Linked DNA regions of Homo sapiens. The protein of the gene in region 2 purifies or fractionates together with the protein of the main gene of each other region. This does not show direct contact. Each region holds a gene or a part of one and is shown on either strand. Other genes may lie near its edges.

What was found.
Region 1: the proteins of CYTH1 (region 2) and FRMD4A purify together in Homo sapiens (affinity purification with mass spectrometry; one large-scale study listed by BioGRID and IntAct). This does not show direct contact.
Region 3: the proteins of CYTH1 (region 2) and FRMD4B purify together in Homo sapiens (affinity purification with mass spectrometry; one large-scale study listed by BioGRID and IntAct). This does not show direct contact.

What each region holds. Positions count from the first base shown.
Region 1 is NC_000010.11:13,659,302-13,662,952, forward strand, and holds part of FRMD4A (FERM domain-containing protein 4A), read right to left. Parts: intron 1,253-3,651; coding exon 1,015-1,252; intron 190-1,014; coding exon 22-189; intron 1-21. UniProt on the Homo sapiens protein: Scaffolding protein that regulates epithelial cell polarity by connecting ARF6 activation with the PAR3 complex. Plays a redundant role with FRMD4B in epithelial polarization. May regulate MAPT secretion by activating ARF6-signaling.
Region 2 is NC_000017.11:78,775,627-78,779,277, forward strand, and holds part of CYTH1 (cytohesin-1), read right to left. Parts: intron 1-3,651. UniProt on the Homo sapiens protein: Promotes guanine-nucleotide exchange on ARF1, ARF5 and ARF6. Promotes the activation of ARF factors through replacement of GDP with GTP.
Region 3 is NC_000003.12:69,180,070-69,183,720, reverse strand, and holds part of FRMD4B (FERM domain-containing protein 4B), read left to right. Parts: intron 1-1,003; coding exon 1,004-1,123; intron 1,124-2,010; coding exon 2,011-2,822; intron 2,823-3,651. UniProt on the Homo sapiens protein: Member of GRP1 signaling complexes that are acutely recruited to plasma membrane ruffles in response to insulin receptor signaling.

The DNA.
Region 1 (3,651 bases), on a different chromosome or scaffold from region 2:
AGGAAGGCCAGGCAGACTCACCTCGTGGAATGGACGTAGTGGGGACTCCGGACCCGCAGGTCTGGCGTGGACGGCATGCTGGACTGGGAGTTCCAGTGCGGGAGGCCGCGGATGGGGCTGTTCTGCAAGGAGTTGCTTCCTCCGCCGGCTTCCGCACAGCTTCCTGTGCTGGGGAAGCGCTTGTGGCTGCTGCAAAGCCAAGGATGCCACGTGGTCACCGCCAGACAGACAGCACCTTTCCTGGGGGGCTGGCTAGTTCAGGACAATGATCCCAGCATGTGGGGAAAGCTCGCCCGTGACTCCCACCTCGCTTGGTCAGACCTCTACTGTGGTTCTCAGCCTTTCCCCAGCAGGGGGTATGCCCTCCCCCCTCCCAACCTAGGCAATATGAGAGGAAAACCCTGGTCAGCCTTCTCTGTGTCAGGCAGTGTGACGGTCCTGCCCTTACAGTTTTTGTTTTCCAAGAAACAAATATTTACCTGTCCTGGCACCCCCCTTGGAGCTTGGTAGGGTGATTAAAGGAAATGGGAAAAACAGAGAAGCAGACCGAAAATGCCTTCCCCCCCAAAAAAAACCTCCCTACAAAGTCAGCCCGGTAATGAGCTGATAATACACAGCTTGGATTACAGCTGCTTGGCTGGAGAATTCTGCTGGATGAGGGGGTAGAGTTCTGAACCACTCTGCATTTGCTCCGAGTGGACTTTCACTTGCTATTTCAGAATAGCGCTGCCTGAGATTTCCTAATTAATTCCTCTGGAATTTAACAGCATTCAAACCATCTGCCATCACGTTGATTGTGGGCCAAAGCCCCAATTTCTCTGAGTCACAAAAATGTACCTCAACAGTGTCGGCAGCAGAGGGCGCTGTGAGCACGGCCCCGTGAAAGGCAAACCCCACGGGGAGGAACTAGGTTGATGTGGATTTTGTCACCGTGGATGCTACTTGGGACGGCCCTTTGATTCTTCCAGAGCATAGAGGGAGGCCTCATTTGGCCTCATTCACGATGCAGCTCACCTGGAATGGCTGTGAGAGGAGCGCTTCTTGACCTTCTCATAGGGTTCATCTAAAGAGGACTCACTCCACATTTTGGGCTTGATGGGTGACTTGTCATAGTCGTTGCGGTGATAGTGCATCTGTCGGAGTCCCTCCAGGGACTGGGGAGGAGGAGGCCTGTTGTGCGACGGTGGCCGAGGAGGGAGTCCCTTGTGAGGAGAATGTAGGGGGGATATTGTGCTGGTAACCTGAGAGTCTTCTGCACAAAGACAGGAAGAGAGGAACTGAGCCCCGGTCATCCTTCCCACAGGCTGAGACAGAACCCCTACACCCCTCCACCCGCACCTTGGAGCCACACAGCCAAACCCACACCTTCACCCCTGTGATGAGAAACCCTGAAACTCTTCCCCAGTTGCCAAGACAAGTCAAGACGAGTCAAACCAAACCAGGGCAAGCCAAACCTCCACTGCAGGCGGGATTGCATGGGAAGAGATGCGTCACTTTTGATTAGACACGAATGGAGTGAAGTCTGAACGTCATTAAATACCACCAACAAATGACTGCTTCACACTAAACAGCAAAATGTAGTTACTGCTGTAGTGCTAAGTTGTCTTTCAACAGATGCTAAGCATCTGATTCACTGTGGGAGGGTCTGAGTTCTGGGAGAGTTTTGTCTGTTTCATCTGCTGCTAGATCCTCAGCCGACACATAGTAGGTGCTTGATAACCATTGGTTGGAGAAGAAAAAATGAATGAGGGTCTATATGTCCATTGTAAATACCTGCTGGGTGGATCGGGTGTCTACTCTGCTTTTTTCCCCCAGAGCTGTGTTTATTCTCTTTTAATCTCTTCCTCTATATTTTAATTTTGAAACTGCCTTAACTTTTTTAAGGAGATGAGCTACAAAGATTATGTATTAATAAATGATTCCCTGCCTCCAGGAAAGAAATGATCTAACACGTCAGTGCGCTAGAGGACTTTCAGAAAAAGCAAATTCAGTGAGTCTAGGAGGTGCTGTGGGAGAGGCTGGTCTTGAAGGGGCTTGAGCAGTGGGCAGGCAAAGAGGAGGAGGAAGGAAGGGCTTGAACCAAAGTGTGGAGGCCCTGAGGGCAGGGTACCAGCTGCAGGCACATCTGGCCAGGCAGGGGCTGGTGAGGAGGGGCAGGGGGAGTAAGGGCAGAGCTCTGGCCAGCACAGCCGCCTTCTGTGTGCACCATGTGAGCCAAGAGCCCGACTGATGGGGGCCTGGAATTCCGAGTTGAGATTTTGAAAAGCCACAGGAAAACTTTGCGATGTCTTAAGCACGGATGCGTCGGAGTGAAAAATCCTGTTTTAGAACTATTCACCTGGCAGTGTTCTAAAACTAGAAAGGAAGGGAGAGAGACTAGAGAGGGGGATGAATGAGGACTTCAGGCTAGGGCAGGTCAGCATTGAGAAGAGAGAGGAGGGAACGATTCAGGCTTCACAGGGAAGGCAGACATGGGAGGTGGAGGGGAAAAAAGCACAGAAGCAAACCTTACAACCAACCAACTACCATTCACTTGCCCCTAAATCCATTTCCAGCGACTTGTTTCACAGCCTAATTCTCAGTCCCCCAGCCGTGGACACCCACTATGCACCCACTCCTCCTTTGCCCTCAAATCAGTAAAGGAAGAGTCCCCAGAAAGAGACCCTGCAGTGGGACTGTGGCAAAAGGATGTGCCGACACCTGTGAGGAAGTCCAGGGGTCTGCATCTGGAACACGGGGAAGAAGCTGGAATCACGGAATGATATCTCAAAATTACCCCGTGACATTACCTATTGCTCCAGGCACCCCTCTACTACCAAGGAATCTCTCAATTTTTCTTCCCTTTCCAGGGGAGACTGGGATACTCAGAGGCCAACCGCAGGGCTGGGATCTCTGATGCTCAAGCCCCCCATTTCCTTGTAGCCCAATGGCGTCCCCGGCTTGTAATGAAGCAGACAAATATATTCCAATCTGATTTCTAATAGCACAGCCAAGGTGACTGGGTAAATAATCCGCCAGACTTTCCTCACATCAAGAGCAATCATTATTATTATTGCAATTATCATTATTACTATGACTAGTGTGGACCTTTCATGCTTTCCATCTGAACAGCCACTTATCACTGCCTGCCTGAGGTTTCCATACAGGGCAAAAAAATTAACTGCCACTTAATATATTTCCATATAATTAATGTACCCGCCTCCCAGTACGATGGTTAAACATCCACAGGAGTATTCTCACATGGTTCTGGGTTTGGAATTCTTTCTTCCCCGACGTATGGTGGTGATGGGGGTTGGGGGAGGGATCAGTTCTGTTTTTTTAAGAATTTCCCAAGAAAATATCCTAACTGCCAGGTTTTAAGAGTTCAGTGGGAAATAATAAGACAGTTTTCCAGCCTGAGTGTGTATCTACTGGGATATCTCCCCTCTTACTTTCACTACTGTCTTGGGAAGCAACAGAGGGTGTGTTCCATTTCTTCTCACGATCCTTACACTCTCCTAGTGGGTTTCAATCTTTGATTTGTGATCTAAATCAATTTCTACCCTTTTCTTTTAGATACCATGAATACTCAAAAGGAAGCTATGCCTAGTGTGTAGATTCTCTGTCTAGCTAAACGTGGTTTTGGGCCAGGTATGGTGGCTCCTGCCTGTA
Region 2 (3,651 bases):
TTACATCAAAGGCAAATAAAAAGTAAGGTATTTCAGAAGCTGAATAAGTAAAGGACATTTGCAGACGTCTCTTCCTTTTCATTTGAAAACTCACCTAAAAATTATTTTAAAATTCTCTGTTGACAACTTCCCTAATTGAAGCTAACTTCTTGAAAGGAACAAAAATAAGACATGCATTTGCTATAATGAACATGATAGACTCCAGCAACTTTCATTTTAAATGTTTATATAGAAATTATGCTTAAAGGCCAGGCACGGTGGCTCATACCTGTAATCCCAGCACTTTGGGAGGCTGAAGTGGGCAAATCACCTGAGGTCAGGAGTTTGAGATCAGCCTGGCCAACATGGTGAAACCTCGTCTCTACTAAAAATACAAAAATCAGCCGGGTGTGGTGGCACATGCCTGTAATCCCAGCTACTTGGGAAGCTGAGACAGGAGAATCACTTGAACCCAGGAGGCAGAAGTTGCAGTGAGCTAAGATCACGCCACTGCACTTCAGCCTGGGAAACAGAGTAAAACTCTGTCTCAACAACAAAAAAAAGAAATTATGCTTAAAAAGGAAGTTCATAATTGAATCACGGCAACTGCAGTCATTAGCCCCAAAATGATGACCATTACAGAGCAACAGGATGAACATACTCTCTGGAAAATCCCGCAAATACTCCCTTAAAGTGCATTATATGTGGTTTTCTGTTTACAACCCTGAACATTATTACACAGAAATATATACTGGCAACAGTACACACAAGCCAGGCGCAATGGCTCACACCTGTAATCCCGGCACTTTGGGAGGCTGAGGCGGGCAGATCATTTGAGGTCAGGAGTTCGAGACCAGCCTGGCCAACATGATGAAACCCCATCTCTACTAAAAATACAAAACAATTAGCTGAGCGTGGTAGCACACGCCTGTTGTCCCAGCTACTCAGGAGGCTGAGGCACGAGAATCGCTTGAACCCGGGAGGCAGAGGGTGCAGTAAGCCAAGATCGTGCCACTGGACTCCAGGCTGGACAACAGAGCGAGACTCTGTCTCAAAAAAAAAAAAAAAAAAAAGTACACACAGTATGCATGTTATAAAGAAAATGTATGCAAAATTTAATTTTTACGATTTTTTTCTTTTTCCTGAGCAGAATAGTATTTTCTTAAGTTAATGGTTTGTCTGGTGGGACTCCACAGTGCCATAAACAGTTTTTTTTTTTTTAAAAAAAGAAACCAATAGGCCAGGTGCAGTGGCTCACACCTGTAATCCCAGCACTTTGGGAGGCCTAGGCAGGGGGATCACCTGAGGTCGGGAGTTCGAGACCAGCCTGACCAACATGGAGAAACCCTGTCTCCAGTAAAAATACAAAATTAGCCAGGCGTGGTGACGCATGCCTGTAATCCCAGCTACTTGGGAGGCTGAGGCAGGAGAATTGCTTGAATCTGGGAGGCGGAGGTTGCGGTGAGCCGAGATCGCCCCATTGCACTCTAGCCTGGGCAACAAGAGTGAAACTCTGTCTCACAAAAAAAAAAAAATAAGGCCGGGCGCGGTGGCTCACGCCTGTAATCCCAGCACTTTGGGAGGCGGATGGATCACGAGGTCAGGAGATCGAGACCATCCTGGCTAACATGGTGAAACGCCGTCTCTACTAAAAATACAAAAATTTAGCCGGGTGTGGTGGCGGGTGCCTGTAGTCCCAGCTACTCAGGAGGCTGAGGCAGGAGATGGTGTGAACCCAGGAGGCAGAGCTGGCAGTGAGCCGAGATTGCGCCACTGCACTCTAGCCTGGGCAACAGAGCAAGACTCCGTCTCAAAAATAAATAAATAAAAATAAATAAATTAAATAAATAAACAAACCAGTAAAGATATATCCCACACAGGTGTAGTCTGAACCAAACTGTCCCTATCTAATGAATACAAAAGAGTACTGGAACTGAGAAAGCCTTTTTGTTGGTTTTTGAAATTGTCTTTAATTGGACAGAGAAACTCTAAGACTCTCTTTCTATAGCATATTATCAATGAGCTATGTTCCAAAAGTTTTTTAATACTAAAAGGTAGCCAGGAAATTACAATGCATTTCCCTCCAGAAAGAATTCTAAAGCCGGGCGCGGTGGCTCACACCTGTAATCCCAGCACTTTGGGAGGCTGAGGCGGGCAGATCACGAGGTCAGGAGATCGAGACCATCCTAGCTAACATGGTGAAACCCCATCTCTATTAAAAATACAAAAAAAAAAAAAAAGAAAGAATTCTAAAAACAGTGGTACCTGTCCTAGGCTGATTCACAAAACGTTACCAACTTACGCAGCAGGGACAGGGACAGGGACAGAGGAAGCACTGTTGAAAACAGCGCACACACAAAGTTAACACCACAAGAAATGTTTCTCATTATTCTGAAAATCAAATATTAAGGTTTAGGCTGGGCTTGGTGGCTCAGGCCTGTAATCCTAGCACTTTGAGAGGCTGAAGCAGGCAGATCAATTGAGGTCAGGAGTTCAAGACCAGCCTGGCCAACATGGGGAAACCCCATCTTTACTAAAAATACAAAAATTAGCCAGACATGATAGCATGTGCCTGTAGTAACCCCTACTCAGAAAGCTGAGGGAGAATCGCATGAACCCAGGAGGTGGAAGCTGCAGGGAGCTAAGACTGTGCCACCACACTCCAGCCTGGGTGACAGAACAAGACTGTCTCAAAAAAAAAAAAAAAAAAAAAAAGGGAAAAAAAATTAAGGTTTAAAAAGTTTATTTAGGGCCGGGCGTGGTGGCTCACGCCTGTAATCCCAGCACTTTGGGAGGCCAAGGCAGGTGGATCACTTGAGGTCAGGAGTTTAAGACCAGCCTGGCCAATATGGTGAAACCCCATTTCTACTAAAAACACAAAAATCAGCCGGGTGTGGTGGCAGGTGCCTGTAATCCCAGCTACTTGGGAGGCTGAGGCAGAAGAATCACTTGAACCCAGCAGGCAGAGGTTGCAGTGAACCAAGATTGCGTCACTGCATTCCAGCCTGGGCAACACAGTGAGACTCCATCTCAAAAAAAAAAAAAAAAAAAAAAAAGAAAGAAAAAGTTTAATTAGGCCTGGCACAGTGACTCAACCCAACACTTTCAGAGGCCAAGGCGGGAGGATGGTTTTAGACCAGCCTGCGCAACATAGTGAGACTCTGCAACTATTTAAAAAATAATAATAATAAAAAGTTTGTTTAAAAGAAAACAATGGAAGTTCTGAGGTGACGTCTGAACACGTCATGTTATATGCTTTATGAATCCATCACACACATTTCCTTTTACAATGTGGGATCTGGTCAAGGTAAATTCTCTGTGAAACCTATGAGGGAAATGGACAGTTCTGGAGACTAACACAAACCTTAAAGAACTTGGGAGTCTTATTCTTCATATGATCATCTTACACCATCAGGTACTTTTTGTGTGGTGACCCTCTGGGTGGGGAATCTTCAATCTTTTTAGTTCCTCCAAAATAAAAGGATGATATTTAAAACTGTAGAAAGGGGAACAGGCCAGGCGGGGTGGTTCATGCCTGTAATCCCAGCACTTTGGGAGGCTTAGGCAGGCAGATCACCTGAGGTCAAGAGTTTGAGACCAGCCTGGACAACACAGAGAAACCCTGTCTCTACTAAAAATACAAAATTAGCCAGGCGTGGTGGCGCATGCCTG
Region 3 (3,651 bases), on a different chromosome or scaffold from region 2:
CACAAGGTCAGGAGATCGAGACCATCCTGGCTAACAAGGTGAAACCCTGTCTTTACTAAAACTACAAAAAATTAGCCAGGCGTGGTGGTGGGCGCCTGTGGTCCCAGCTACTCCGGAGGCTGAGGCAGGAGAATGGCGTGAACCCAGGAGGCGGGGCTTGCAGTGAGCCAAAATCACACCACTGCACTCCAGCCTGGGCGACAGAGCAAGACTCAGTCTCAAAAAAAAAAAAAAAAAAAAAAAAAATTAACTTCTAATTGTGTTGTCACCATGCTGGGAAGTAGACATAGTGACTTAAAGCTGTTGTTCTTAGTCCAGGGACCAGCAAACAACAGTCCAGTGGCCAAATCCATCCTGCTGCCTGTTTTTGCGCAGACCGTGAGCTAAGAATGGTTTTTATATTTTTAGGTAGCTGGTGGTGGGGGGATCAAAAGCAATAATATTTTACAACCTGTAAAAATGATATGAAATTTAGCATCCATAGGTCATTTTCTTGGAACACAGCCACACCCATTCTCTTACATATTATCCATGGCTGCTTTTGCACTGAAAGGGCAGAGCTGAGTAGTCGCTCTAGAGACCATCTGGCCCACAAAGCCAAAAGCTATTTAGTATTCTAGACTGTTTACAAAAAAGGAGTTTGCTGAATTATACATCCATCCCTGTTCACCACAAAGATTTGATCATCTAAGGACTGTTTTGAATGTTCAGGTGCCTACATAAACAGCTCTAGTTGCTTTGAGTCTTTTTATTCAGTGTACTCTTTATTAAAAGTCCTTTTTTTCCCTACATATTTGTGACTCAGAAAGTCAGACCATATGTGCTCCCGCTGTTTTAGCGGGTTTTCTTTGTGGTTTAGTGAACCACAAAGACACTCTTCCTATCTTTCTCCCTATTTTCCCTTTCCTTGGGCTTCTAGTAAGTTTTGTATCTGCTTATGACAAGTTTGCCAGAGATGTTGAGAGACTCATCATTTCCTGAATTCTTCTTTTTATCATCACAGAGAAATGCTGTCCACACACAGCAGCCCTTACAAAACTCTGGAGAGGCGGCCCCAGGGAGGACGAAGCATGCCCACCACGCCAGTTCTTACCCGAAACGCCTACAGCAGCAGCCACTTGGAGTAAGAGAGCTTCTTTCTCATTGCTTTAGCTGTCTTGATTTTTGCTTTGAGGTTCTGTCTTGCTTTATTGTGTTTTTTAATCATTTCAAGTGACTTTCTGTAGCAGGACCTTGTTTTATGGTTTTACATTTTCTGCTAACTTATGGTTTCAAATATGTTGGCAAAGAAAATGTATTTGATTTGTTCAAATATACATTAGATTTTTAGTACCTTAATTTCCCCAGTCACATATTACCATTCATTATTCAATGGTGAGGATGAAGTTAGTAACAATAGCAACATTTTGAAATGTTTGTGAGTGCTGTGCTAAATGTTTTATATTCACTGGATTATTTAGTCCCTACAGCAAGCCTTTTGTGAGGTAGATATTATATATTGTTTTCATCCTCATCTTACAAAGGAGGAAGCAAGATTCAGAGAGGTTAAATATCTGGCCTGAGCTCATACAGCTGGGAAATAGCAGTGCCATGACTCAGCCCAGCCACCTCTGACCTCCACTCGAATGTACCATATCTTCATATCCTCTAGGAAGACAGGACCCTCCAAAGACACGTTGGGTTTTTTGTTTTTGTTTTTGTTTTTTTTTCCAGGCTGTGATGCAAACTGTGCATCCTCAGTCTGTGTCTTTCCCTACCCTCAAGGAAGGATTTGGCTTGCGCAACTAACAGAAGCCAGCTCTTTTCTCATTTTGACCATGGTCAAAATGAACCTACATGTGAGCCAACAGATTTGGAGAACAATGGATTCTATTGTGCAGTCAGCTTTGGCAACTCAAAGTCCTATTGTAATTCACGAGCTATTCAGTCATTCAGCATGCTATTCTTTTTTCTTATTTGGGTCCTCCTTTTCTTCTTGGTGTTGAGAAGTTTGCCTTTCTCCTCTTTCAGACCCGAATCTTCATCTCAGCACTGCCGCCAGCGGAGTGGAAGCCTGGAGTCCCAGTCCCACCTGCTCTCCGAGATGGACAGCGATAAGCCATTTTTCTCCCTCTCCAAATCCCAAAGAAGCAGCAGCACAGAAATCCTCGATGACGGGTCTTCTTATACAAGCCAATCAAGCACAGAGTATTACTGTGTGACACCAGTTACCGGCCCCTATTACACCACCCAGACCCTGGACACTCGCACCAGGGGTCGGAGGAGGTCAAAGAAACAGAATGTTTCTACTTCAAATTCAGGAAGCATGCCCAACCTAGCACAAAAGGATAGTTTGAGGAATGGTGTTTACTCAAAGAGTCAGGAGCCACCGTCTTCCAGTTACTACATTGCCGGGTACACACCCTATGCAGAGTGTGACTTTTATTACAGTGGTGGTTATGTCTATGAGAATGACACCGAGGGACAGTATAGTGTCAACCCTTCCTACCGGTCCTCAGCCCACTATGGATATGAGCGCCAGAGGGACTACAGCAGATCCTTTCACGAAGATGAGGTCGACCGGGTACCCCATAACCCATATGCAACTCTCCGGCTGCCAAGGAAGGCTGCTGCAAAATCGGAGCACATCACCAAAAACATCCACAAGGCCTTAGTTGCCGAGCACTTGCGTGGCTGGTACCAGCGGGCCTCTGGGCAGAAGGATCAGGGACACAGCCCGCAGACCAGCTTTGACTCAGACAGGGGATCACAGAGATGCCTGGGGTTTGCGGGGCTGCAAGTACCTTGTTCTCCAAGCAGTCGTGCATCCTCGTACTCTTCAGGTGAGAATACTGTAAAAACACGCAACACCTGGATTTTATTTACATCGTGTTTCCTGCCCACCTAAAACCGCCTCACGGATCATGAGACCAGTACTCAGGGTCAAAAGTGGGGCAACCATTCGGTGGAACCCCACAATAAGAATTTCCAACTTAAAAACAGTTCTTTCCAGCTCTCCAAAGAACTCAGTACACATGAGTCTAATGAAGCAAATTGTAGATTCAAATCCAGCAAACATTGATTGAGCATTTACTCTCTGTGCTGCCCTGTTTTAGGGTTTTTTTTTGTTTTTTGTTTTTTGTTTTTGAGAAGGAGTCTCACTCTGTCGCCTAGGCTGGGATGTGTTAGGGGTTTCACTTGCTTTGTCTTTTTAGGATTTACGTTGACAGGCACATCTCTTAAATGTGTTCACGTCATTGAGGCTTGATATTTTAAAAGAATAAACCCTCAGGTAAGCAGAAAACATTAGAATTATACATCCCTCCTGGTTCACCACCAAGATTGATCATCTAAGGACTGCTTTGAATGCAAGCCTGGGATTATGCAGGTACTTAGGCAAGTGCCTGCATAAGGCTCGTAAGAATCCTTATAGGAGCTGGCATTGATTAAGCACTGTTCTAAGTAATTTGCTTTTTTTTTTTTTTTTTTTTTTTTGTAGAAACAAGGAGGCTTAGGTTGGGTCTTGCTATGTTGCCCAGGCTGGTCTCAAACTCCTGGCCTCAAGCAACCCTCCTGCCTTGGCCTCCCAAAGTGTTGGGATTACATGTGAGAGCCGCAGTGCCTGGCCATGCATATTGTAATTCAGTATTCATATATACCTATGTTGTGGTT